Linked DNA regions of Homo sapiens. The protein of the gene in region 1 purifies or fractionates together with the protein of each later gene. This does not show direct contact. Each region holds a gene or a part of one and is shown in the gene's direction. Other genes may lie near its edges. The genes, in order: USP46, RAD51AP1, DMWD and PHLPP2.

Evidence for each region.
Region 2: the proteins of USP46 (region 1) and RAD51AP1 purify together in Homo sapiens (affinity purification with mass spectrometry; 4 studies listed by BioGRID and IntAct, with this or other methods). This does not show direct contact.
Region 3: the proteins of USP46 (region 1) and DMWD purify together in Homo sapiens (affinity purification with mass spectrometry; 7 studies listed by BioGRID and IntAct, with this or other methods). This does not show direct contact.
Region 4: the proteins of USP46 (region 1) and PHLPP2 purify together in Homo sapiens (affinity purification with mass spectrometry; 6 studies listed by BioGRID and IntAct, with this or other methods). This does not show direct contact.

What each region holds. Positions count from the first base shown.
Region 1 is NC_000004.12:52,649,293-52,656,325, reverse strand, and holds part of USP46 (ubiquitin carboxyl-terminal hydrolase 46), read left to right. Parts: exon of another isoform or gene 1-15; coding exon of another isoform or gene 16-30; intron 31-7,033. UniProt on the Homo sapiens protein: Deubiquitinating enzyme that plays a role in behavior, possibly by regulating GABA action. May act by mediating the deubiquitination of GAD1/GAD67.
Region 2 is NC_000012.12:4,555,862-4,560,552, forward strand, and holds the end of RAD51AP1 (RAD51-associated protein 1), read left to right. Parts: intron 1-491; coding exon 492-641; coding exon of another isoform or gene 642-689; intron 690-2,995; coding exon 2,996-3,132; 3' UTR 3,133-4,186; downstream 4,187-4,691. UniProt on the Homo sapiens protein: Structure-specific DNA-binding protein involved in DNA repair by promoting RAD51-mediated homologous recombination.
Region 3 is NC_000019.10:45,782,846-45,789,878, reverse strand, and holds the end of DMWD (dystrophia myotonica WD repeat-containing protein), read left to right. Parts: intron 1-3,007; coding exon 3,008-4,285; intron 4,286-5,163; coding exon 5,164-5,238; intron 5,239-5,588; coding exon 5,589-5,636; 3' UTR 5,637-6,932; downstream 6,933-7,033. UniProt on the Homo sapiens protein: Regulator of the deubiquitinating USP12/DMWD/WDR48 complex. Functions as a cofactor that promotes USP12 enzymatic activity.
Region 4 is NC_000016.10:71,714,688-71,721,720, reverse strand, and holds part of PHLPP2 (PH domain leucine-rich repeat-containing protein phosphatase 2), read left to right. Parts: intron 1-5,880; exon of another isoform or gene 5,881-6,167; intron 6,168-6,486; exon of another isoform or gene 6,487-6,919; 5' UTR 6,920-6,925; coding exon 6,926-7,033. UniProt on the Homo sapiens protein: Protein phosphatase involved in regulation of Akt and PKC signaling.

The sequences.
Region 1 (7,033 bases):
ATTCTTTGCTCAATAATGAATTGTTTTCAGGTAGGTGTCTTACAGGTCCCTTCTCACTGCTTAGCTCCTCTGTGGGCCTCTTACTGACCCTTCCCGCTCCTAACTTTGGTCCCAGCTGGTTTGAGTAGTTGTAGTAAGAGCAAATGGTGATTGCATTTTTTTCTTAAGCACATCGTTTAACATATTTTGAACAGGCTGATATGTGTTCAGAAAGGATATTAGAAGGTACCATTTTTCTGGGTAACAGGAAAAAACGAAGATCTATCATTGAAAGTGGATTTGTTTCCTCCACCAGATAAGAAAGGACCCAGCAGAGCAGAAATCAAATTTGTAGCAGATACTTCGTGTGATTGAGAACTAAACATCCCCTCTTTTCCCCATACTTCTTGTGCCAGTTTTAGTTATAGGAAACTTGGAAAATATCTTCATTCCTCCACTTACCCACCCACTTGCTGAAGTTTTATTGTTCACTGGAAGTTTAGTACTAGTTTCTATTTGTTTTAATTTTTCTTCCATGTGAATTCCTGCCATGGTAATTCTTGATGAACTTGCTCAGGGCAAGGCAGCTTGGCCACACAGCAGTGTGTGGTTCAGAGATAGTAAAGCTTGTTTGGCTGGTGTGTTGTAATTTTCATAATGCACTAGCTGCTACCAAGCATGAGGAAATGTCTTCTGTTGATAATCCTCTGATTTTTGTCCAGACCAATGGATTTAACTTCCTATATATTTTTATGGCCCTGCAAATGGAAAGTTTTTGTTTTTGGGTTTTTTAAGTTTCCTATTTGAAGAGCTTGAGAAATTTTCTAAAAAGGAAGCATTAGTTAGAAGAAACCAAATGTGACATACCAATGCAAGTTGCTTCAGATCATCTAATCTTATTTCATTTGTTAATAATGCTGTAAGATGTACCTCTGAGAAAATGCTGTGTATCAAATGATTACGAGTTTTGTTCCGATAAATGGCCATCTGTTGAGGACCTGCTATGTTGGTGTTGGCACAGACTATACTCAAGTGCTTAATAAATGAATGAGGTGAGTCCCTGTCCCCAAGGGGCTCAGCTGTTCCTTATCTTGTGGGTGTTAACATTGGTAAAGATGAAACAATTTCAATACAGTGTTATATCAGCACAGATAGAAGTTGAATAAACTCCCAGCAGCTGTACAGTGGAAAGACCGATTAACACAACAGGACATTTCAAAAATACATTCTCGTTTGACCAAAGTTGTATACACATTCTGCTTCTGGCTTTTATTTTATATGAGGACATGATTGTAGTCAATGTGAGTTAGAATTGAAATCTGCACCATTGGGTGTCTCTCCAGTTAAGCATGAATCTAATGGTGCTTTTGGGCAAACTGTTGTATTTCCGGAGACCTTAGTTTTTCTCATCTTGTAAAACTGATTTTCTGTTTTTGGTCATGAAAAACTTCATGGTAGAATTCCTTAGATAAAGGCTTTATGAAAATCTGCACCTCTTAATTGGTTAGCAACCACTTCATTACCTAACTACCTTGTTTAAAACTGTATTGAACTTATGACATGTTAGCATTTTAGCGTCTGTAGAACAGCCTCAGGATAATTTTTGACATCAGTTTGAGTGCCAGATTTTAGTTCTTTTAAATAAATGAGGTAGGCTGGGCATGGTGGCTCACTGGTAATACCAGTACTTTGGGAGGCCGAGGCAAGAGGATTCTTTGAGCCCAGGAATTCAAGATCAGCCTAGGCAACATAGTGAGACCCAATCTCTACCAAAAAGAAACAAACAAAATCATGTAAATAAAAATGTATCATATAAATAAATGAAGTTATCTGGAAATAAAGGGAAAGTAAACATTACAATTTTGAAACAAAACTAGAGTATTTTTATAGTTTTATCTTGATAAGTCAACTACTTACCTAAGGCAAGTATTTTGAGAATGGTTGGAAACAACTTTTTAATTATTAAAAAATATGTCCATCTTGTGATTTGGGGGAACAGATATCTTGCCTTTTCCTCTGTTACTGTTATTCATGCTTTCCATTCTCAAAGATAGTTGGCAATTATAAGTTTAGTTAATATATCAGCTAGGTGTAAAGTCATATGAGGGTCTACTCTGATAGTTGCTGGGATTAGAAAATACAGTCTGAGGTGAGGTGGATTAATGTTTAAAGAAAAGAAATTCTGTTTTTCTGGCCCCACTGGTCTCATATGCAGAGGTTTATATTAGGTCGGGACCTGACAATTAGTTCTGCGGATTTTTCTGTTTTTCTTGGACTCCTCAGAGAAAACAAAGTTGAATGCTGGTATTTAGTTAGAATGAAAGATTATGATACCTTTTCTGTATAACAACTTTATGTGCTTCAGTTCACTCATACCATAAAATCTGTTTATTTATTCTTCACTAAGTGGAATTTTGGTATGTTTGGGTTATAATTGAAAGGCATTTTCAATTTTGATTCTCTTAGCAATTAAGAGAAATTTCTCTAGCTCAGATGTCTTTTTTTTCCCCCTCCTGGTCTTTCTAGTTAGTGTGAATAGATTGGGGTTCCATGATGGTATTAAATTCTGTGGTATCATCAGAAAGGTATTTGGTAACCACCTATCTCTATCTCTAGCTTACCCATGAAGCCACCCAAAGCTAACTAACTGGAAGAGATGTAAAAGATGGTGTCTTTTAGTCTAGTTAACTTTTCTGGTCTAATTATTTTAATGCAGCTTCTTATAACAAACCTTCAGTTGTGGTGGAACCAAATGCTGATCTAAGGGTTTGAAAGGCCTTGGTGGTCTTTAAGAGAAAAGGCCACCCAAAAATCAATCAGCAAAATCTTTTTTTTTTTTTTTTTTTTTTTTGAGATAGAGTTTTGTTCTTGTTGCCCAGGCTGGAGTGCGATGGCTTCACTGCAACCTCTGCCTCCTGGATTCAAGTGATTCTCCTGCCTCAATCTCCTGAGCAGCTGGGATTACAGTTGCCTGCTACCATGCCTGGCTAATTTTGCATTTTTAGTAGAGATAGGGTTTCACCATGTTGGCCAGGCTGGTCTCAAACTCCTGACCTCAGGTGATCCGCCCGCCTCAGCCTCTCAAAGTGCTAGGATTATAGGTGTGAACCACTGTGCCCTGCCACGAAAACATTCTTGAGACGAACTCTGTGTTAGCGAACAACCCTAACAGTAAAGGGTTTTTGGAATATTTCTCTTCTGGGACTATGGCTTGAAGTTTGAGGGATGCTGTAAGTGCTGTACATGGAAGTTTACCCCAATTCTCAGAATGATTCTTTGCAATGGATAGTTTTAAGATCATGGTGATGGGACTCTGTGGTCGCCAAAGCTTCACTTTACCCTCATAGGGCCAACCTTCCTTTTCTTCCTCAAGTTCCAATGTCACTTTTAGAACCCTCAGATACTTTTTAAATTAGCTCAGACTTTGCCTTTTTTTCTGAGTGATGGTGAATTTTAGACATACAGAAATGTGGAATAATAGAGTGAATACTCGTGTACTCCCCACCCAGTGAAGAAATAAAATACTATATATACATTTAAAACCACCTATGAGTCCTTCCTGATCTCATTGCCTCTCCCCACAGAGTGACCACTATTCTGCATTTAGTGTTTATTGTATATTTTTATATTTTTACTAGATTTGTATGCATTCATAAACTAGATATAGTGTATTTTTTCATGTTTTAAACATGCTTTATAATATTAAACATTCCTCTCAGTTTGCTTTTATTGTTTAAATTGTGATTTTGCTATTTATCCATTGAGAGACACATAATCCTAGTTTATTTTAACTGCTGTATAACATTCCATTATATAAATATGCTATGACACATTCATTTTAATGTTGTAAGCAGGTTTACAAATTTGTGAGTGTGCTGTTTTAATGCAATGAACAGTTGTGAACTCATCTCCCTGTGTATAGTATACACAGTTGACAGTTGACAGTTTCTCTGTGGTGTAAACCTGGAAGGGAATTGCTGGGTCAAAGGAATTTGATCGTCTTCTTTAATAAGTTGCCTGATTGCTCTCCAAAGAAGTTATGCCAATTTGCATTCCAACCAAGCAGCGTTTGGGGGTTCCAGTTGCTTCACATGTTTGCAGATATTTGATATTGCTAGACTTGATGTTTTGCCAGTCTGATGGGTGTGACATTGTGCCTTTGTGGTTTAAAATTTGCACTTTTCCTGTTTGCTAGGGGAGGTTGAACATCTTTTCATGTGTTTGTTATGCTGGTTTGTTTTCAACTCAGGGGCCTGAGAACAGTTTTCCAGGTCTTGAAAGTCAGGATTGTAGTTTTGGTTTTGTCTGAAAACAGGGACAATGAAGAAGGGACAGTGAAGAGGAAAATCAAGGAGACCAAAGCAAAAGTCATGAAAGGTAGGGATGGATTGGAAGATGCAGGTGAAAAAAATGATGACAAGATAATCACTGTGGAGGGGTGAAAACTAGTAACAAAAAGATAATAGAGTAGCACTGAGAAGATACCTTGAATTTTGAGAGTAAATTTGGGAGACCTGCCTGTGCCAGCAAGGCCTTGTTCAAGCCACATTTGCTTTGTTTAATTGACATTGGCTTTAGTGAAAATCGTGTCTGGGGCCTGTTCTGGTGAGAACAGCAGCAAAGCTGGACTTGCAGAGTTTTCCTGTTTACCCAGTTGCTTTTTCAAGTTCTTTTAGAAAGGCATTGTGAAACGATGGTCATCTTCCTAAAATACATTTCTCTGTCCTTCAGGTTAGGTACACAGTGCAGGAAAATTTTTATCTGGATCTGCTTGAATATATACTGGTGGAATTACTGTCTTAAATATTTAGAAAGTATTCTCTACACTTCATTTTAATTTTCAGAGTATGATGAGTATTACCTCATTAAACAAAGAAATGTATGGTTTTAGGTTCTTTGGTGTACCAAAGAATGGTTCCCACATGTGCATTCTCTTATTAAAAATTTAGACTCTGGGGTTCAACACCCAGAGAGTTTGATTAAGTAGGTCTTAGTTGGGGCTCTGGAATCTGCCTTTTAAATTAGTGTTCCCTCCTCCTTCTACTCCCTCCACATTCTGTTATAGGTGAGCTGAGGACCATGCTTGGAGAAATATTGCTTCCCTTGGGTAATAACCTCAGCCTCTTAAAAAATATTGCTTAAGAAATTACCTGCCATGTGAAAGTTTTTAAAAAAATGAATGTAAAATTATTTAAGCTAGTAACTTAACTTTTTCTGTTCTTTTTTCTCTTTCTTTCTTTTTTTTTTTTTTTTTTGAGATGGAGTCTCACTCTGTTGCCAGGCTGGAGTACAGTGGCATGATCTCAGCTCACTGCAACCTCTGCTTCCAGGTTCAAGCGATTCTCCTGCCTCAGCCTCCTGAGTAGGGTACTACAGGCACGTGCCCCCTTGCCCAGCTAATTTTGTATTTTTAGTAGAGACAGGGTTTCACCATGTTGCCTGGGATGGTCTTGATCTCTTGACCTCGTGATCCGCCCACCTTGGCCTCCCAAAGTACTGGGATTACAGGCGTGAGCCACTGCACCCGGCCAACTTAACTTTTTCTTGGTATTAAATAGCCAGGTTTTGTATTAGTTTATATATTCAGAACAGAGATTTTCAGCACTGGCTTTATATCATATCACCTGTGAAGCTTTTAAAAGAAATTTTAAAAATAATAATTAAATCACAAAACATTAACATACAAAAAAGCATGAAAAAATAATGTTATATATGTTTACCTACCCTTCAGATTTAACAGATATTAAAATGTAGCCATATTTGGTTACTTTTATTTTTAGACATATTACTGTAAAAACAGCACTAACTCTTTTTAGACTCTTTTACCTTAAAAACAGACACTAACTCAACCCAATCTCTTTCCTTTCTCTTCCTCCCAGAGCAAACCATTTTCCTGAAGTTGATATGGTGTTTACCAAACATGTCTTATACTTTACTTTGTATTTATGAATTCATAAGCAATGGATTGCAACGTTTGTGTGTGGATAAAATCGTGTAGCTTTTTGCAACTGTCTTTCTTTACTCAACAAGTATATTTGAGATTATGTCAACACATAGAGGTCGAGTTTATTCATTCTGACTGCTCTGTAACAGGATTCTTTGACTTAACCATGGTTTACTTATTCATTCTCTTATTTAGGGGCAGTTTGGTAGTTTCTACAATATTCTCTCTGGAAACAGTGTTGCAGCGAATGTTCTTGCTTCTGTCTTCTTTGCTCAGGTGTCTTCATTTCTTTAGGGTATAATCCTGGAAGTCAATATGCTGCTTTTAGGATGCGCCCATCTGCAGCTTTGCTAGGTGTGTCAAATTGCTCTCCAAAGTGGTTCCACCAATTGGAGCTTTATTGACATGCAGTTTCTAGGGTCCCAGTCTCCAGCGTTTCTGACAGTATGTAGATATAGGTAGTCTGGGGTGAATTTTAGGCACCTGCGTGTGTATGTGTGTGTGTGTATTTTAAGTGCCACAGTTGATTCCGATGTGAGCATCCAAGGTTGATAAACCACCATGTTAGACTGACAACTCTATGAGGGCAGGAACTGTATTTATTTGTATTATTCAGTGTTGATTTCCCAGCTGTCAGCACAGTGCCTAGCACATATGTGGTTGGTGCTCAATAAATAAATATTGATAAATGAATGAAGGGATGTAATTTGGTAGAATGGAAGAATTGCCTTGGAGTAAAGCAGTATGCCTCCAATTTTATCATGCATAGGCATTAGCTGGAGGTCTAGTTGAAATGTCAATTTGGATTCAGCACGTCTGGGGCAGGGCGGAGATTTTGCACTTCTAACAAACTCTCTGGTGGTACAGATAATGCTGGTTTCGGGACCATTTTTAGAGCAGCAAGGCTTTGGGAAAAACAAAACAACTTCTATTTTCCATATAGTTGTAAAGTGGAGGAGTTTGGAATTCAGAATCCTGTTTGGTAAATCTCAGATCCTATTTATCTTTTTACAACAAAGGTAGTCAATGAAATACCTTCTTTAAAGCTTTTTGGGGAGCATCAGAAGAGATCCTGCCCATGGAAGCACTGTGTGAGCTATGATGCCTTCA
Region 2 (4,691 bases), on another chromosome or scaffold:
TTTCCTGTTCTTCCCACTGAAGTCTAGTGACTAAACCTTAAAGTCCTTGGGAGCAGGAGCCATGTTTCTAACCCTAGAGCCTGACACATAATCTCACTGACACATACTCACGAGACACTATTGTGTAATGGTTAGTTACAAGGATGGGATTTTGGAGGAAAATCTGGTTTCTAAGCTTAGATGCTTACTAGCTGTCAGACTACAGGCAGATTGCTTAACGTCTCTGTTTCCTTCTCTGAGAGTGGGGATAGTAATATCTGTATTGGAGTTGTTGTAAAGAGTTAGAGGTAATGTGTGTGATATGCCTACCACACTGCCTGGCATATTAATGCTCATAAAAGATGGCTATTCTTAGGCTCTCAATAAATGTTTGTTGATTAATAAGTTTATTTTTTATATGATTATGTAACTTTATAATTTTTACACATATATGCTAGACTTACTTTTTCTTCCTGCATGACAAACATTTTTACGTATATTTTTCAAATAAGTGACTTCGGTGGACTCTGCTCCAGCTGCCGTCAAATCAGAATCTCAGTCCTTGCCAAAAAAGGTTTCTCTGTCTTCAGATACCACTAGGAAACCATTAGAAATACGCAGTCCTTCAGCTGAAAGCAAGAAACCTAAATGGGTCCCACCAGGTATGGCATATTTATCATCAAGGACAGGAGCTTGGAAAATTATCACTGGTAAATTTTTTTCCTAGTTACAAACATCATGTGTGAGCATTTCCCCATATTATTACATATTCTTCAAAACCAAAGTTCCTGGTTGCTGCATATATTCATTTATTTAACCATTCCTTATTATTGGACATCCAGGTTTATTATTTTTTCAGTGCTATAAATAAGATTGCAATAAGTGCAAATGTCCTTATTTTAGAAATCTCTGGGCATATTACTGATTATTTTCCTAGGATAAAATTTCTAGTAGGAAAATTACAGTGTTAAAGGGTGTAAACATTTGAGATTCCTGAAGTATGTATTTCTGGCAGCAAATCTTTTGCTCAGGACCTGCTGACCTCCACAGTCTGACTGAAGCCTTGGGATCTATATGTGGCAATTCTAGCATTTAACAAATGCCCTAGCAAACTCAACCTCTTGCTTTCACAAATTTCACTTCTCTGTTTTCTTTTGCTCCACAGCCAAGTCTCATGGATCCTTCAAGAATTCTTTGACCTTCACCCTTCTTGACATTACTAAAACCCTAATCCAGGCCCAAATTGTTGCTGCCTTTCCTAACCAGTCCTGTCTTTACTTTCTGTCATCCACCTGCATGAACCGTCCACTTCAGTGAAATTGAAACACTTTTTGTCTCTCAAACATGTTGTATGTATGCCTCTCTCAGGGCCTCTCTTAATCCTCCTCTGCCTGGTGTGTCTTTCTTCATGTGTCCCCTCTCCTTGCCTGAGCCCTTCCAATTCTACTCCTGTTTTTCTTTTGAGGGGCCTCTCTTGATTGGTCCACAGTGCTCACTCCCCTGCTGACTACTATTCATAGATTTAGGCGTGAGCTGTGAGGCTGCATGATTACTTAACTTACAGAGTCTTCATTTCATCATGTGAAATATTGGGAACAACTGTAATCTTTAAAGTCCATTCTGGTTTACAACTTCTAAGATTTTTAATGAGGACTTAAAAACTTTTTGGAGAAGGAAAGGAGGGAAGATTAATTACTTGATGTCATATCATTCAAAGAGTAATACTTAGTATATTTCTAAAAATAATTAATGCTTCCCCAATGAAGGAAATTTAAATGGAGTGATATAACTATAGAAATTTAAAAGTAGCATAATTAAAAAAATACAAGGAAACAGTGGAATGATGGATAAAGAGTTAATGTCATCAAGCACAAAGTGCTTATCAAGTCAGCATGTGACAGTCAGGCAAGTGATGTAAACGAGTGAATTGGGCCCATGCAGTAGACTTGCGTGGGTAGGAATTTTGTTGGACTCAGGAGCGCGTACCCTTTTGAAGGAAGCAGCTGCTACTCAGCTCCATCGTATTGTTTCCATGCAAGATTATGGGCTTGGTATTTCTAGATCTGATTGCTGTTTTCAAGAGAAGCCAGAAATCCAGATTTTAATATGAAATCTGCTAATTTTTGTAAGTTGATTTTTTTTGTTGTTGTTGTTAGCACCATGTGAACCAAAACAATATATCTGAGAGCTAGATTTGGCCCTCAGATTGCCAGTTTGTTACCTATCTTATACAACTGGAGAAGACCACCAAGACCCCAAAAGTAAAATTAGCCAGAGGCATAAATATAACAGTGTCCCCAAGAACTATTAATACAACAAGAAAATATGAAGAGTTTCAGTCTCACTGGTAATTAAGGAAGTGTAAATTAAAATAAAATACTATTTTATACCTTTCAAACTAGAAAACAATAAAGCAGTATAGTCTGAGTTATAGGGTAGCAGGTATAATTATTTATTTTAAATTTATAATACTGTTGTGTAGGCGAGCAACTACAGTCACCATCAACTGTGAACATTCATGTGGATAATTTTGAAATAGATGGAAATAATTGCGACATTAGGATAATAGTATAATGAAACTAGTATAAATAAATAACAATATTTGCCATTTTTAAAGGTATTTAATAATTGAAAAATAGACTCTTCAAGGACTACTTGTAAAAATTGCAGGACCTTAAAAATGCATTTGCTTTTTCTATTACTTTAGAAATTATAATTATATGCATTTTTGTATGCCTTTACAACTAGCATTATTTGTTCCCAGCCTTCCTTTTTCAGCTTTCATGGTGAGGTTTTAGTGTCATTACCTTGGCTTCTGGGATGTTTGGAAATAGGCAATACTGTATTAATTTCTGCTCTTTAGAACATTCTGTTCTTTTGATCTAGTTTATTGCTTGATAGACACTGGAAAGCAGAATAATGCTTAACTACCTTTTTTTTGCTGCTTATTTTATAAATTAATCTTTGTTAAGAGATTTCTGACATCATCAGCATCACATCATATGTTTCCTTTCAGCGGCATCTGGAGGTAGCAGAAGTAGCAGCAGCCCACTGGTGGTAGTGTCTGTGAAGTCTCCCAATCAGAGTCTCCGCCTTGGCTTGTCCAGATTAGCACGAGTTAAACCTTTGCATCCAAATGCCACTAGCACCTGAGTGTGGTACAGGAGGAATGTTTGGTTGGGAGAATCACAGCTTTACAAGGGTGTTTATATTTGATTTGTGTTTATATTTGAGGCAGGTATTGTAATATAAAGGAATCCATTACCATGTCCTATAAATGACCTCTAGCCATTTTATGATTATGTTCTCTGTAAAACTCTTCAAGACTTCAATGAGAAGTTTGTTTATAAGAATTATCTTCTCATACCTTTCCTTGTGAAGAGCGTATTCTGTTTTTCTATCAGTTCGACATGAAGTCCACATCACATGCTGTTCTTTTCTAGTTACATGATGTGCCTTTCTAGCTTTGTCTAGTTTATAGCACCTTAACTTTAACTGTTCAGTTTTATCTGGCAGAGGAAAACATTCTTATTTCTTTCAGAAGACATTTCTGAAATCTTATAAGCTACTTAAGCTACGTTGTCAGTTTTATCGCAAAGATGTTTTGTATTTTAGCCAAATCTTTTTATAGTACAAACTTAGAATTATTTTACACACTAAAATGGTTGCAGTTTTATGGCATATGTCTCCGATTTAGATGGTTATTCTCTAGAAAATAGTATTTAAAGACATTTTATGAAATCTTCATTGTCAAAACCTTTAATAAAAGTGGAAATATTTTGAAATGCCCTTTTTCTTGATACCACTCATCCACGTGTTCCTGATTGTCCACATTTCATGATAAAATGAGAGCTCCGCAGAGAATGTTAGCCTTTCTGTTGTAAATGTAATCTTCAAGTAGTCACTTTTTGTTAAGTTCTTTAGAAAGTAGTTGTCAAGTACTTAGTCATCCCTATTATGATATGAGATAGTACAGCTTTTCAGGAAGCTTAGATCTGAATTTACTTTGAAAAACAATTGTAATGAATATTTTATATTTACATTGAGAATTTCAACTAGCTTCTGATCAATTTTTAATAAAAAATTTTCAAATCATGTTAGCTGTTAAAAAATGTATAATAACTCAGTTTTTCTTGGTTTATGGAAATATCTATATTAATGTGAAAATAATTAATTTAGAATTGTGATTAAAGTGAGCATTTGTCTATTGCTGTTGTACACTTCTTTTATCTAACGTATATTTTTATAGTGTCATATACCAGCCCCCTAACCTGCCCCACCTGTCCCCTTTTTAAAAACATATTTTCCAGTTACATAGCACTGAGGTACTCTATTTGGTGTAGATCAACAATAAACATAAGAGCCTACTGTATATTAGGTACTGATATAATTGATTAATCATCTGGCACCAGCTCAATAACCTGTTTTTGCCGTGTTCTTTATAGTTTATCAGGGGATTTGAAAATTACCTCAAAGTATGTTAAAACCAGCCTGGCTGAAAGCACTGATACCTTTATGTTGCCAAACCCAGTGTACAATTTTCTCACCTAATCTTATACACCCTATTCATTATACTCTGATGAAAACATTTGATTTCCTTGGCTCATGTGACACATTTCTTTGTCATTTCTTCCCATCTCCATGCCTACTCTTCATTATTTTGCAGCTTTCTAATCTGTTGTGTCACCTTTACCTACTTGTCTTACCAGTTT
Region 3 (7,033 bases), on another chromosome or scaffold:
ACACCCGGCCAATTTTTGTATTTTTGGTAGAGATGGGGTTTCACCATGTTGGCCAGGCTGGTCTCAAACACCTGACCTTGTGATCCGCCCACCTCGGCCTCCCGAAGTGCTGGGATTACAGGCATGAGCCACCGCGCCCGGCCATTCTTTGAGTTTTCATCAACCAGTGGATACAGAAGTGTGCTGCCCATTTTGCAGATTAGAGAATTGAGGCTAGTAAATAAGTCGGGACTTAGTTGATGCCCTTGCTCTTTGAGTTCTGGGCTCTGGAGGCTTTGGATTCAAAGCCCTGCTGCACCATTTACTCATCATGTGACTTTGGGAAGGTGACCATTCTCTGAGCCTCACTTCTCCTCCTCTGCAAAATGGGATTCCAGTTCCTACCTTGCAGGACCGCTGTTGTAGAATCATACATGGAGATTGCTCAGTCCTGGGCCAACTTGGCCTACGAGGAGATACCAGTAAACGACCTTATCCGCGGGCAGGGACTGCTCTTGGCTTCTGTCTCATTCTCTCTGGTCCAGAGGAGGTGTTCCATAAATATTCTCAGAATGAGTGAATGGCTGAAGGGAGTGAACGGAACAGTCAGTGGATTAAAAATTCATTAGCTCATCCATTCACAAATAGTTTTTGAGCATCCGTTCTGTGCCAGGCACCGTTCCCAGCACTAGGGATATCACATCTCAGGGCCCTGGACAGGAGGCCCTGCCCTTTTGGAGCTTTCAGTCTAGCTGGGGAGACAGACAGTTAATCAAGTTAAGTCTTCGTGTGTCAGCAGGTGATTAAGGCCTGTTTAGAAGAAGCAGTGGGGAAGGGGCTGAGGGAAGCTTGGAGAGTTTAGTAGGGTGGTCAGGAAAGCCCTCACTAAGAGGTGATACTGAAATAAAGACCTGAAGGAGGCAGGTGAGAAGAGTTGCCTGGGGAAGGGCATTTTTTTTTTTTTTTTTCCTGAGATAGGGTCTCACTCTGTCGTCCATGCTGGAGTGCAGTGGTACGATCTTCGTTCACTGCAACCTCCGCCTCCCAGGCTCAAGCAGTCCTCCCATATCAGCCTCCTGAGTAGCTGGGACTACATGCATGCACCACCACAACTGGCTAACTTTTGTATTTTTTGTAGAGGCGGGGTCTCTTTGTGTTGCCCAAGCTGGTCTCGAACTCCTGGGCTCAAGCTATTCTCCTGCTTTGGCCTCCCAAAGCGCTGGGATTATAGGCGTGAGCCATCACACCCAGCCAAGAAGGACATTCTGAGTATCGGGGCCAGCTAGGACAAATGCAGGATTGCACAGAAGCCGTGTGGCCAGTGCAGTTACTGAGGGAGAGAAGATGGTAGATGAGTTCCAAGAAATAACGGAGGGGCTGGCTCATGGAGAGTCTGGAAGGTCACGGAGAGATTTTGCCTTACTCTTAGTTGGAAGCCTGTGGAGGAGCCTTTCTCATTGGGGCTCACCTGAGCCCTGGAAGGCAGAAGTGACTAGAGTGATTATTTGTTCAGTTCTCCCAGGGATGGGAGGCACCTCATCCTGGGAGAGCAGCTCCTTAGTTGCATACACTGGCTGCCTGAGAGCATTAGGGCCTCAGGCTCTGGAACCCTGCTTGAGAGAGGCTGCGAAGTGTTCAGAGCAGGACAGTGCCAGGTGCTGGCTGATACTTCACAGAGCATCGCTGTGGCGGCTGCAGAGGACAGACAGGCCCAGGCATTGGAGCCTGAGGCCAGTCACACAGCATTGCAGGCTTGGGGTGGTTGAATGGGATGGTGAGAGGAGGTCAGATTCTGGGTGTATTTTTTCTTTTTTTTTTATTTTGAGGTGGAGTCTCGCTCTGTCGCCCAGGCTGGAGTACAGTGGCATGATCTCCCCTCACTGCAACCTCCGCCTCCCGGGTTCAAGCAATTCTGCCTCAGCCTCCTGAGTAGCTGGGACTATAGGCGCCCGCCACCATGCCTGGCTAATTTTTGTATTTTTAGTAGAGATTTTGTATCTCTACTTGTATTTCACCATATTGGCTAGGCTGGTCTGGAACTCCTGACTTTGTGATCCGCCTGCCTCAGCCTCCCAAAGTGCTGGGATTACAGGCGTGAGCCACCACGCCCAGCCACTTCTGGGTGTATTTTGAAGGTCGAGCCCACAGGATTTGTGGAAGGATTGGATGAGGAAAAGAGGGGCAGATGCCGAGGTTTTTTGTCTAAGCACCTAGCGGGATGGGGGGTTGTCACTCATTTGTCCAGGAATTACCTTCAAGCTGCCTCCTGTGTGCACTGCTTTAAAGAATAGTGAACCAAACAAAGATCGCTTCCTTTGGGGAGCTGCCTTTCCGTGAAGAAATTTCCTACTTGAAGCCTGACGTAGTAAAGATCGGGGGAGGGTTAGACAGATACAGTGGTCCCCAACCATTTTGGCACCAGGGACTGGTCTTATGGAAGACAGTTTTTCCACAGACTGTTGGGGGGATGGTTTTGGGATGAAACCGTTCTGCCTCTGATCATCAGGTGTTAGATTCTAATAAGGAGCGCACACCTAGATCCCTCGCATGCATAGTTCATGGTGGGGTTCGCACTCTTACGAGGATTGAATGGTGCGCTGCTCCGGTAGGAGGCTGGGCTCAGGCTGTAATGCCTGCTCGCCCACCACTCACCTCCTGCTGCATGGCCTGGTTCCTAACAGGCCACGGACCACTACTGTTCCATGGCCCGGAGGTTGAGGACCCCGAGATACAGGACAATTCTGTGGCAAGCAGGACTGTCCCCTCGCCAAAGATGGGACATCGAGGCTCCTTGGAGCACCCTGTGGCCACCTTGCAGCAGCCTCTGTTTCCCCATGTTTCCATGACCTGGTGTCCATCTGTCTTCCCCAGTTTGGGAGCTTCTCTCCGAGGAGGACCTGGGCCTGGTGTGGCACCTGCTGTGTGAGCGGGGCCATGTCCAACGGCCTTCTTGGGGACTTTGGGTCGGGGAGAAGTTCTGCCTGGGTTTTACTGCCTTCTCCCAACCCCACACTGTCTCCCCTGGCAGCGGTTGATCGACAAGACCAAGGTGACATATCTGAAGTGGCTGCCTGAGTCGGAGAGCCTGTTCCTGGCATCACACGCCAGTGGCCACCTGTACCTGTACAACGTCAGCCACCCCTGCGCCTCGGCCCCGCCCCAGTACAGCCTGCTGAAGCAGGGCGAGGGCTTCTCTGTCTATGCTGCCAAGAGCAAGGCACCCCGCAACCCGCTGGCCAAGTGGGCGGTGGGTGAGGGGCCCCTCAACGAGTTCGCCTTCTCGCCCGATGGCCGGCACCTGGCCTGTGTGAGCCAGGATGGCTGCCTGCGCGTCTTCCACTTCGACTCCATGCTCCTGCGTGGGCTCATGAAGAGCTACTTTGGGGGCCTGCTGTGTGTGTGCTGGAGCCCTGACGGCCGCTACGTGGTGACGGGTGGCGAAGATGACCTGGTCACCGTGTGGTCCTTCACCGAGGGCCGCGTGGTGGCTCGAGGCCATGGCCACAAGTCCTGGGTCAACGCTGTGGCCTTTGACCCCTACACCACAAGGGCAGAGGAGGCGGCGACAGCAGCCGGTGCTGATGGGGAGCGGAGCGGCGAAGAGGAGGAGGAGGAGCCCGAGGCTGCGGGCACAGGCTCGGCCGGGGGCGCCCCGCTCTCTCCACTGCCCAAGGCTGGCTCCATTACTTACCGCTTTGGCTCGGCGGGCCAGGACACGCAGTTCTGCCTGTGGGACCTCACTGAAGACGTGCTCTACCCGCACCCCCCCCTGGCCCGCACCCGCACCCTCCCTGGCACACCTGGCACCACGCCACCGGCCGCCAGCAGCTCGAGGGGTGGCGAGCCTGGCCCAGGCCCCCTGCCTCGCTCGCTGTCCCGCTCCAACAGTCTCCCGCACCCAGCTGGCGGGGGCAAGGCGGGCGGCCCGGGTGTGGCGGCAGAGCCTGGCACACCATTCAGCATTGGCCGCTTCGCCACGCTCACACTGCAGGAGCGGCGGGACCGGGGGGCAGAGAAGGAGCACAAGCGCTACCACAGCCTGGGCAACATCAGCCGGGGTGGCAGTGGCGGCAGTGGCAGTGGTGGGGAGAAGCCCAGCGGCCCTGTTCCCCGCAGCCGCCTGGACCCCGCCAAGGTGCTGGGCACTGCGCTGTGCCCGCGCATCCACGAGGTGCCCCTGCTGGAGCCCCTTGTGTGCAAGAAGATCGCCCAGGAGCGGCTCACAGTCCTCCTGTTCCTGGAGGACTGCATCATCACTGCCTGCCAGGAGGGCCTCATCTGCACCTGGGCCCGGCCGGGCAAGGCGGTGAGTGGCCCCACACCAGCCTGCCGGGGACCTGGCAGGACCTTTCGTGGGAAGAGGCAGGCATTGGCAGAGAGAGGGCTTTGTTGCTGTCACAGCCTCTGGCTCCGTGGGGTGAGGGGAAGCCAGGGAAATCTTAGTGTCTCAGTACAAGACCTCTCAGATCCTTAGAGTGAGGGGGTCTAGCCCTAGGCAGCAGGCAGCAGAAAGAGGGGTGGGTGTGAGAGCCAGCTAGGAATTGGGGCATCCAAGGCTGGCCGTCTGAAGGGCAGCAGATGGGCCCCACATGGCCAGGTCTTACTGCCTGTCACTCGAACCAGAATCTATTTCTGTTGAACATCTGTTTTTTAAATCGTGAAACTTTTTTGAGTACTTCAGGCCAAAACTAGGGGCGAGCTCAAGCCTGTGGGCATGGCTGCCAGCCTGGGTCTGGGACTCAGGATCTGAGCCTCCTGCTGAAGGCACAGGCTGGGAATCCCAGGCCTGGGTTCCAGTCCCACTCCCTCTGTGACCCTGGACAAGTCACTGCCCCCTCTGACCTCCAACTCATCACCTCTTAGAACAGAGCCTGTAGGATGGGCAGTGGGTGGATGTGCTTGCCTCCTGGGTGGGCTGTGGCGTTGGGAAGGTCATAGTAGGCGAATCAGGCCTGGCATCTTGTAAGTTCGGAGCTCGTCTTGGGTGTCTCAGCTTCTTAGGGCTTGGACTCAGTTGCCCAGGGTCCTGGAGGCCGTGGCTTGGTTCCTCAGATCCTCAGTTTTGGAATCGTAGAGTCCTGAGTCCCTAGAACTTGAGAGCACAGTCTGAGTGACTCAGAGGCAAGAGTGGTGGGATTTGGGGAGTCTGGTTGAGTCCTAAAAGAGACCCCTCTGTCTCCGTAGTTCACAGACGAGGAGACCGAGGCCCAGACAGGGGAAGGAAGTTGGCCCAGGTCACCCAGCAAGTCAGTGGTAGAGGTAGGACTGTCCCTGAGTTCTTTCCCCAGCACCTCAGGGTCCCTCCCAAGTTAGAAGGGAGCTCCAGTTTCCCCCTCCCCTCCCACCCTTACCCTTACCCCATGGTCTCACTCAGGATCCGCCAAGGACTTTGATTATTGCGTGAAAGTGCTGACTGCCAGGACAGGAAGCTAGCTAAGATGCAAGTTCCCAGCCTAGAGCAGTGGCCTCTGGGGGGTCTAGGGCGGACCCAAGGGCAAGGCCAGGGTGGCAGCAGCTTTGGGGACTCTGGGCTGGCTCCCTCCCCTTGACACTGGCTGAAGCCCAGGTGGTCTCTAACCCCTCCCATCTCTCCCTCTCATCTTCCCCAGGGCATCTCCTCCCAACCAGGCAACTCCCCGAGTGGCACAGTGGTGTGAAGCCATGGATATCGGGCCCCCCCAACCCCATGCCCCCAGCCTCCTAGCCATAACCCTCCCTGCTGACCTCACAGATCAACGTATTAACAAGACTAACCATGATGGATGGACTGCTCCAGTCCCCCCACCTGCACAAAATTTGGGGGCCCCCCAGACTGGCCCGGACACGGGCGATGTAATAGCCCTTGTGGCCTCAGCCTTGTCCCCCACCCACTGCCAAGTACAATGACCTCTTCCTCTGAAACATCAGTGTTACCCTCATCCCTGTCCCCAGCATGTGACTGGTCACTCCTGGGGAGAGACTCCCCGCCCCTGCCACAAGAGCCCCAGGTCTGCAGTGTGCCCCTCAGTTGAGTGGGCAGGGCCGGGGGTGGTCCAGCCCTCGCCCGGCCCCCACCCCAGCTGCCCTTGCTATTGTCTGTGCTTTTGAAGAGTGTTAAATTATGGAAGCCCCTCAGGTTCCTCCCTGTCCCGCAGGACCTCTTATTTATACTAAAGTTCCCTGTTTTCTCAGCGGGTCTGTCCCCTTCGGAGGAGATGATGTAGAGGACCTGTGTGTGTACTCTGTGGTTCTAGGCAGTCCGCTTTCCCCAGAGGAGGAGTGCAGGCCTGCTCCCAGCCCAGCGCCTCCCACCCCTTTTCATAGCAGGAAAAGCCGGAGCCCAGGGAGGGAACGGACCTGCGAGTCACACAACTGGTGACCCACACCAGCGGCTGGAGCAGGACCCTCTTGGGGAGAAGAGCATCCTGCCCGCAGCCAGGGCCCCTCATCAAAGTCCTCGGTGTTTTTTAAATTATCAGAACTGCCCAGGACCACGTTTCCCAGGCCCTGCCCAGCTGGGACTCCTCGGTCCTTGCCTCCTAGTTTCTCAGGCCTGGCCCTCTCAAGGCCCAGGCACCCCAGGCCGGTTGGAGGCCCCGACTTCCACTCTGGAGAACCGTCCACCCTGGAAAGAAGAGCTCAGATTCCTCTTGGCTCTCGGAGCCGCAGGGAGTGTGTCTTCCCGCGCCACCCTCCACCCCCCGAAATGTTTCTGTTTCTAATCCCAGCCTGGGCAGGAATGTGGCTCCCCGGCCAGGGGCCAAGGAGCTATTTTGGGGTCTCGTTTGCCCAGGGAGGGCTTGGCTCCACCACTTTCCTCCCCCAGCCTTTGGGCAGCAGGTCACCCCTGTTCAGGCTCTGAGGGTGCCCCCTCCTGGTCCTGTCCTCACCACCCCTTCCCCACCTCCTGGGAAAAAAAAAAAAAAAAAAAAAAAAAGCTGGTATAAAGCAGAGAGCCTGAGGGCTAAATTTAACTGTCCGAGTCGGAATCCATCTCTGAGTCACCCAAGAAGCTGCCCTGGCCTCCCGTCCCCTTCCCAGGCCTCAACCCCTTTCTCCCACCCAGCCCCAACCC
Region 4 (7,033 bases), on another chromosome or scaffold:
AAGTTACAGCTAATGTCGGTGTGTGTCATGAGATTCATTTTTTTTTTTTCAAGAACAGTTTTGGGTGTTTAGCAAAGTATGTATAAACAATTAATGCCAAAAAAAATTTAAAAAGATTTTTTTTTAGAGACATAGCTTCATTGTGTAGCCCACGCTGGAGTGCAGTGGTGTGATCATAGCTCACTGCAGGTTCAAACTCCTGAGCTCAAGTACCTCAGCCTCTCAAGTAGCTAGGACTATAGGCACATGCCTGGCTAATTTTTATTTTTATTTTTGTAGAGATGGGGTCTTGCTATGTTGATCTCAAACTCCTGGCCTCAAGTGATCCTCTTAACCTTGGGCTCCGAAAGCACTGGAATTACAGGCATGAGCCACTGCACCCAGCCCAAAACGTTATTATTGTTATTATTTTTTTGAGGCAGAGCCTCTCTCTTGCCCAGGCTAGAATGCAGTGGCGCGATCATGGCTCAAGTGATCCTCCTGCCTTAGCTTCCTGAGTAGCTGGGATCATAGGCACGTTTTTTTTTTTGTTTGTTTGTTTTGTTTTTTTAGTAGAGATGAGGTCTTACCTTGTTGCCTAGGCTGGCCTTCAACTCCTGGGCTTAAAGGCTGTCCCTCCTCGGCATCCCAAAGTGCTGGGATTACAGGCATGAGCCACCGCACCCAGCCCCAAAACATTTTTAAAGCGCTGACATATTCTTTCTCTATCTCATCCCATCCCTCCCCACCGCTTTCACAATATTTAATAACGTGTGTATTCCCAGATATGAGTCTATATTGTTTTAAAGTTTTGAATGCAGAAACATCTTCTACCTAAGAGTATTTCACATTGTTTTTTTTTTTTTCGTCTTTTGTTTTTTTTTCCGAGGTGGAGTTTCGCTCTTGTTGCCCATGCTGGAGTGCAATGGCACGATCTTGGCTCACCGCCTCCCGGGTTCAAGCGATTCTCCTGCCTCAGCCTCTCGTGTAGCTGGGATTACAGGCATGTGCCACTACGCCTGGCTAATTTTGTATTTTTAGTAGAGACAGGGTTTCTCTATGTTGGTCAGGCTGGTGTTGAAGTCCTGGCCTCAGGTGATCCGCCTGCCTCAGCCTGCCAAAGTGCTGGGATTACAGGCATGAGCCACCGCACCCGGCCGTATTTCACATTCTTGCAGAACTAACTGAATATGGAGAGTTACTTTACCAGACCCTGTTTATACCATGTATATCTTATTATTGTATGTGAGTGTGTAATAGTATATCACCTTTGAACTGATCATTGCCCTCATGGAACACTTTTAGAGTTAAAAGTATAAAACTGGGCTGGGCACAGTGGCTAACTACTATAATCCCAACACTTTGGGAGGCCGAGGCGGGTGGATCATTTGAGGCCAAGAGTTCAAGACCAGCCTGGCCAACATAGTGAAACCCCGTCTCTGCTAAAAATATTTTTAAAAATTAGCTGGGCGTGGCCAGGCGCGGTGGCTCACGCCTGTAATCCCAGCACTTTGGGAGGCCGAGGCTGGTGGATCACGAGGTCAGGAGATCGAGACCATCCTGGCTAACACAGTGAAACCCCGTCTCTACTAAAAATACAAAAAATTAGCCAGGCGAGGTGGTGGGCGCCTGTAGTCCCAGCTACTCGGGAGGCTGAGGCAGGAGAATGGCATGAACCCCGGGGGGCGGAGCCTGCAGTGAGCCGAGATTGTGCCACTGCACTGCAGCCTGGACAACAGCGACACTCCGTCTCAAAAAAAAAAAAAAAAAAAAAAAATTAGCTGGGCATGGTGTTGTGCACCTGTAATCCCAGCTACTCAGGAGCCTGAGGCAGGAAAATCGCTTGAACCCGGGCGGTGGAGGTTGCGGTGAGCCGAGATCGTGCCACGGCACTCCAGCCTGGGCAACAGAGGGAGATGCTGTCTCCAAAAAAACAAACAAACAAAAGTGTAAAATTGAAGCAGTGGGTATTTAATTCATGGCTTACCCTCAAGACTTTTGCCTTCTAGAAAGATTTTTTTTTTTTTTAAAGACAGAGTCTCCTTGTGTCACCCAGGCCCATAGCTTATAGAAGATACGAAGTTACAACTAATGTCGGTGTGTGTCATGAGATTCTTTTTTTTTTTTCAAGAATAGTTTTGGGTGTTGAGCAAAGTATGTATAAACAATTAATGCCAAAAAAATTAAAAAAGATACTTTTTAGAGAGATAGCCTCATTGTGTAGCCCACGCTGGAGTACAGTGGCGTGATCTCCGCTCACTGCAGTCTCCACCTACTGTGTTCAAGCGATTCTCATGCCTCAGCCTCCAGGGTAGCTGGGATTACAGGCATGCGTGCCACCACCCCCGGGTAATTCTTCTGTATTTTTAATAGAGACGGGGTTTTGCTACGTTGGCCAGGCTGGTCTCGAGCTCCTGACCTCAGGTGATCCTGCCCGCCTCAGCCTCCCAAAGTGCTGGGATTACAGGCATGAGCCACTGCGCCCGGCTAGAAAGATCTTTAAATCTAAAATACGCTCTTTGTATACTTGTTTGATGTAAGAGGTAATTGTCATTGTGTTCCCTTTCAAATAAATTTGTGATAACAATTCTATAAGAGTAAGGGGAAAATAATTTTCTCAACCTAGCAATTCCAGTAGAATGGTGATTCTAAAAGTTGAAAGCACCTCAGAGGACCGTGTCATCTGCAGTCCTGGCTCCTAGGAAGGTTTTTCCAGCAGTTAACTGATGTGTTAAGCAGTGGAGCAAGACATTCTTGAGAAGAAGGAAGCACTAGGCAATTCAGCAGTGGCTAATAACAGCTAAACAGTCCATCTAGATTGTTGCTGTAAGCCTTTGCTTTGCTTAATATCCAGGCCTTTTAAGTGCCCATCGGTCAGGTTTAAGAGAATGATATATACTGAAGTTGTAACTTAGCAGTTTATCTTCTTAGGGCGGAATGTATCATGTAGACAGGAGATAGATCCTTTGAGGTAAATGATGACCAACAGCGTGTATATTTTGTTGTTGTTGTTTTAATCTTTATTTTATTTTAATTTTTTTTGAGACGCGGTTTCACTATGTTGCCCAGGCTGGTCTTGAACCCCTGACCTCAAGTGATCCTCCCTCCTTGGCCTCCTGAAGTGCTGGGATTACAGGCATGTGTTTTGTTTTTTTTTTTTTTGAGATAGAGTCTTGCACTGTCACCCAGGCTGGATTGCAGTGGCGCAATCTCGGCTCACTGTGGCCTCCGCCTCCCAGGTTCAAGTGATTTCCTTGCCTCAGCCTCCCAAGTATTTGGGATTTCAGGCGTGCACCACCACGCCCAGCTAATGTTTTTGTATTTTTAGTAGAGACGGGGTTTCACTATGTTGGCCAGGCTGGTCTCGAACTCCTGACCTTGTGATCCGCCTGCCTTGGCCTCCCAAAGTGCTGGGATTACAGGTGTGAGCCACTGCGCCCGACCGCATATATGTTTTGATAATGTAAAGTTCCTTAAGGAATTTATAATCTAAGGTAAATATATATGCACTAAAAATGACTGTTAAAAATCCTCACAGAAGAAAAATCAGGCCTGGTGTGGTGGCTCATGCTTGTAATCCCAGCACTTTGGAAGGCCCAAGCAGGAGGATTGCTTGAGTCCAGAAATTCAAGACCAGCCTGGGCAACATAGCAAGACTCCATCTCTTAAAAACATACAAAAAATTAGCTGGGTGTGGTGGCATGTGCATGTAGTCCCAGCTACTCTGAAGGCTGAGGCTTTAGGATCACTTGAGGTCAGGAGTTCGAAGCTGCCGTGGGCTATGATCACGCCACTGTAGTCCAGGCTGGGTGACAGAGCGAGATCGTGTCTCAAAACAAACAAAACTTCCTGGAGTCTTCCTTGACTTTTCTAAGATTTAGAAGGTCAGTGGACCATTATTTGACCTTAGAAAGTTGTTCTGAAGACGACTTTTTTGTTTGTGTGAAACAGTGTCTGCTTACTCTTTTTTCTCCACTGAGTAGAGAATGCGGAGCTTTGTATAAATATTGCTATACTATATGGAATACTGTTTTCAGATGGTCCAGTTAATCTTTCCCAAAGATTAAAAAATGAGGAGTATTTAAAATTTAACAGTATTTACCTACTAAATATTTAACTATTAGCAGTATTTGACTATTCAGTGGTTAAAATTACTTAGTACAAATACGATGGTCCCTATGTTTATGCAGTAAGCCCTTGAAAGCCCTTTCATTCTGAGATGTTCAGCTTTGAGAAAATGCATTTGATGAGAAAACTAGTTCTCACTTGTAGCAGGGATTTATCCTACTTCTCTAAAGTTAGATTCAATAATCCTCATGGTTTTGAATAGCAATGCCTAAATCCCCAAGATCTGCAAAATGATCAGTTTTCCTGAGTTCTAAATTTAAACAATAAAGCCATTCTTACTCTTGTTTTTCTTTTTTCCCACATAGAAATACCTGCTAACTTTTCATTCCTCTTTCTCTGACATCTTTAGAAATGTATTACCCTCAAATATTTAATCTTAGTAATTATAAAAATAGTATTTGCTGTATTTATAGGTATTTCTATTTTCCAATGAGGAATACTACTGAAAGTATTTTATTTACTCCCATTCACTTTGCAGCTGCTGCAAAGATGTAGGGTTCTCCATAGAAATGGGAATTTTCCCCCCCAAGTTTGTTCAGCTTCTTGCCAGAGCTAATTGGACTAAGGTACAGATTGGGAATAGGTTTCTGTGATGTCAGCTGAGTTCTACAAACACTTCTGTGTCACCCAGGTGTTAACATGCTAGAAATGGAGAAGAGGAAGAAATATCAAATAAATAAATAAAACCCATTGTCATCGATGTAGTATTAGAGGTGTACTCAAGGTGAAGAAGTTCTTAATTCTGTCTAGATAATTCATTAATTCTGTCTAGTAAAAATGTCTGGTAGTCATTAATTCTGTCTAGGGAGAATAAGGATAGGAGATATGGAAGGCTCCATAGAGAAGGTGATGCCTGAGTAGGATTTTGAAGAATAACTTGTCATATGGATGAGGTGGAGAAAGCCATTTCAGACAGGCCACAGAATTGTGGTGTACTTGGTGTGTTTGGAGAGCTGCAGGTAGTTGGAGGTGATTGAAACATGGAGTAAAGGGCAGTAGTAGGGAACGAAGCTGGAGAGGTATGGCTGCGGAAATGTCAGTGGAAATTTCTTTTTTATCAAAAAGAACAGAAATAGCCCATCATAAAAATAGAGCAGGCAAATGCTGATCTTTAGAAACTTGTTATATTACCTGTAGAAATTGTTTTTGCTTTGAGATAACTTGGCAATATATGAATTTCACATACCTAAATTATCAAATGCGACATTAATTTTTTTTGAAACAGGGCAGGAATGGAAAGTATATTTGTGCAGTATTGTGTTGATACTACACTTGGCTTATTTGGGATGTAAAGCAAAGGGTTAGGACCCTAGAGAAACACACATTTTCATAAGGAGACATGTACAAAAATGTTTATTGCTGGATTGTTTCTAGCAGTGAAAAATTGGAAGCAAACTGAATGCTGTCAACAGGAGAGTGGATAAAGTTTGGTGTATTTGTATAAGGGAATATTATTCAAATGAATGAACTGGGTATATTAACACAGTTGTATCTCTAAAGCAATATTGAACTAAATAAAATTACAGGGTGAAACATAAGTATTGTTAAGGATTAGATGAAGTTTAAATTAGATAAGACAATACTGTGTATGGTTTATAGATTAAAGTTTTTTTTTTTTTTTTGAGACAGAGTCTCTGTTGCCCAGACTGGAGTGCGGTGGCACAATCTCGGCTCACTGCAATCTCTGCCTCCTGGGTTCAAGTGATTCTCCTACCTCAGCCTCCCAAGTAGCTGGGATTACAGGCACGTGCCACCACACTCGGCTAATTTTTTGTTTTTTTTTTTTTTTTGTATTTTTAGTGGAGATGGGGCTTTACCATGTTGGCCAAGCTGGTCTCGAATTCTTGACCTCAAATGATCCCTCACCTGGGCCTCCTAAAGTGTTGGGATTACAGGTGTGAGCCACCTTGCCCAGCCTAAAGTTTCTTTTTTTTTGAGATGGAGTCTTGCTCTGTCACCCAGGCCGGAGTGCAGTGGCGCTGTCTTGGCTCACTGAAACCTCTGCCTCCCAGGTTCAAGCAATCTTCACACCTCTGCCTCCCAGGTAGCTAGGATTACAGGCGTGTGCCACCACAGCTGGCTAATTTTTTTGTATTTTTTAGTAGAGATAGGGTTTCACCATGCTGGCCAGGCTGGTCTCGAATTCCTGACCTCAGGTGATCCGCCAGCCTTGGCCTCCCAAAGTGCTGGGATTACAGATGTGAGCCACTGTGCCCAGGCAAAATATTAAAATTTCTATTTTTGAGAGACAAGGTCTCGCTCTGTCACCCAGATAGGGTTGCAGTGGCACAATCACGGCTCACTGCAACCTCAATCTCCCGGGTTCAATCTGTTCTCCAACTCAATCTGTTCTCCACCCTCAAGTAGCTGGGACTACAGGCGTGTGCCACCATGCCTGGCTAATATATAAAAAAAAATTTCTTTTGTAGAGATGGGATGTTGCCATCTTACCTAGGCTAGTCTTGAACTCCTGGCCTCAAGCAGTCCTCTTACCTTGGCCCCCCAAAGTGCTGGGATTACAGGCCTGAGCCACTGCAACCCGCTGTTTCGTTATTCTTGACACGTTTCTGAAAACACAAGGAAAAGAGAGGTCAACGAAGATGATGGATGGAAACACAGACAGCAGTAAAGAAAATTAAGTTATCTGAGTTATTACGAATGAGCATGATAGATGTGAAGTGCTCCACAAAAGGAGGGGATACTTGAGCAGAATGTTGGGGAATATAAAGTAGAGAGAGGTGGGGTGAGGACTGAAATGTCTAATTCAGTCAGATGTTCTAGCTAACGATTTCTTTCTCTTGATATTTTTTAGAGAAATATGAAACGCAATGGGAGCAGAAATTGTTTGAATAGGAGAAGTAGGTTTGGTTCTCGAGAAAGAGACTGGCTAAGAGAAGATGTAAAGAGAGGCTGTGTTTACCTTTAT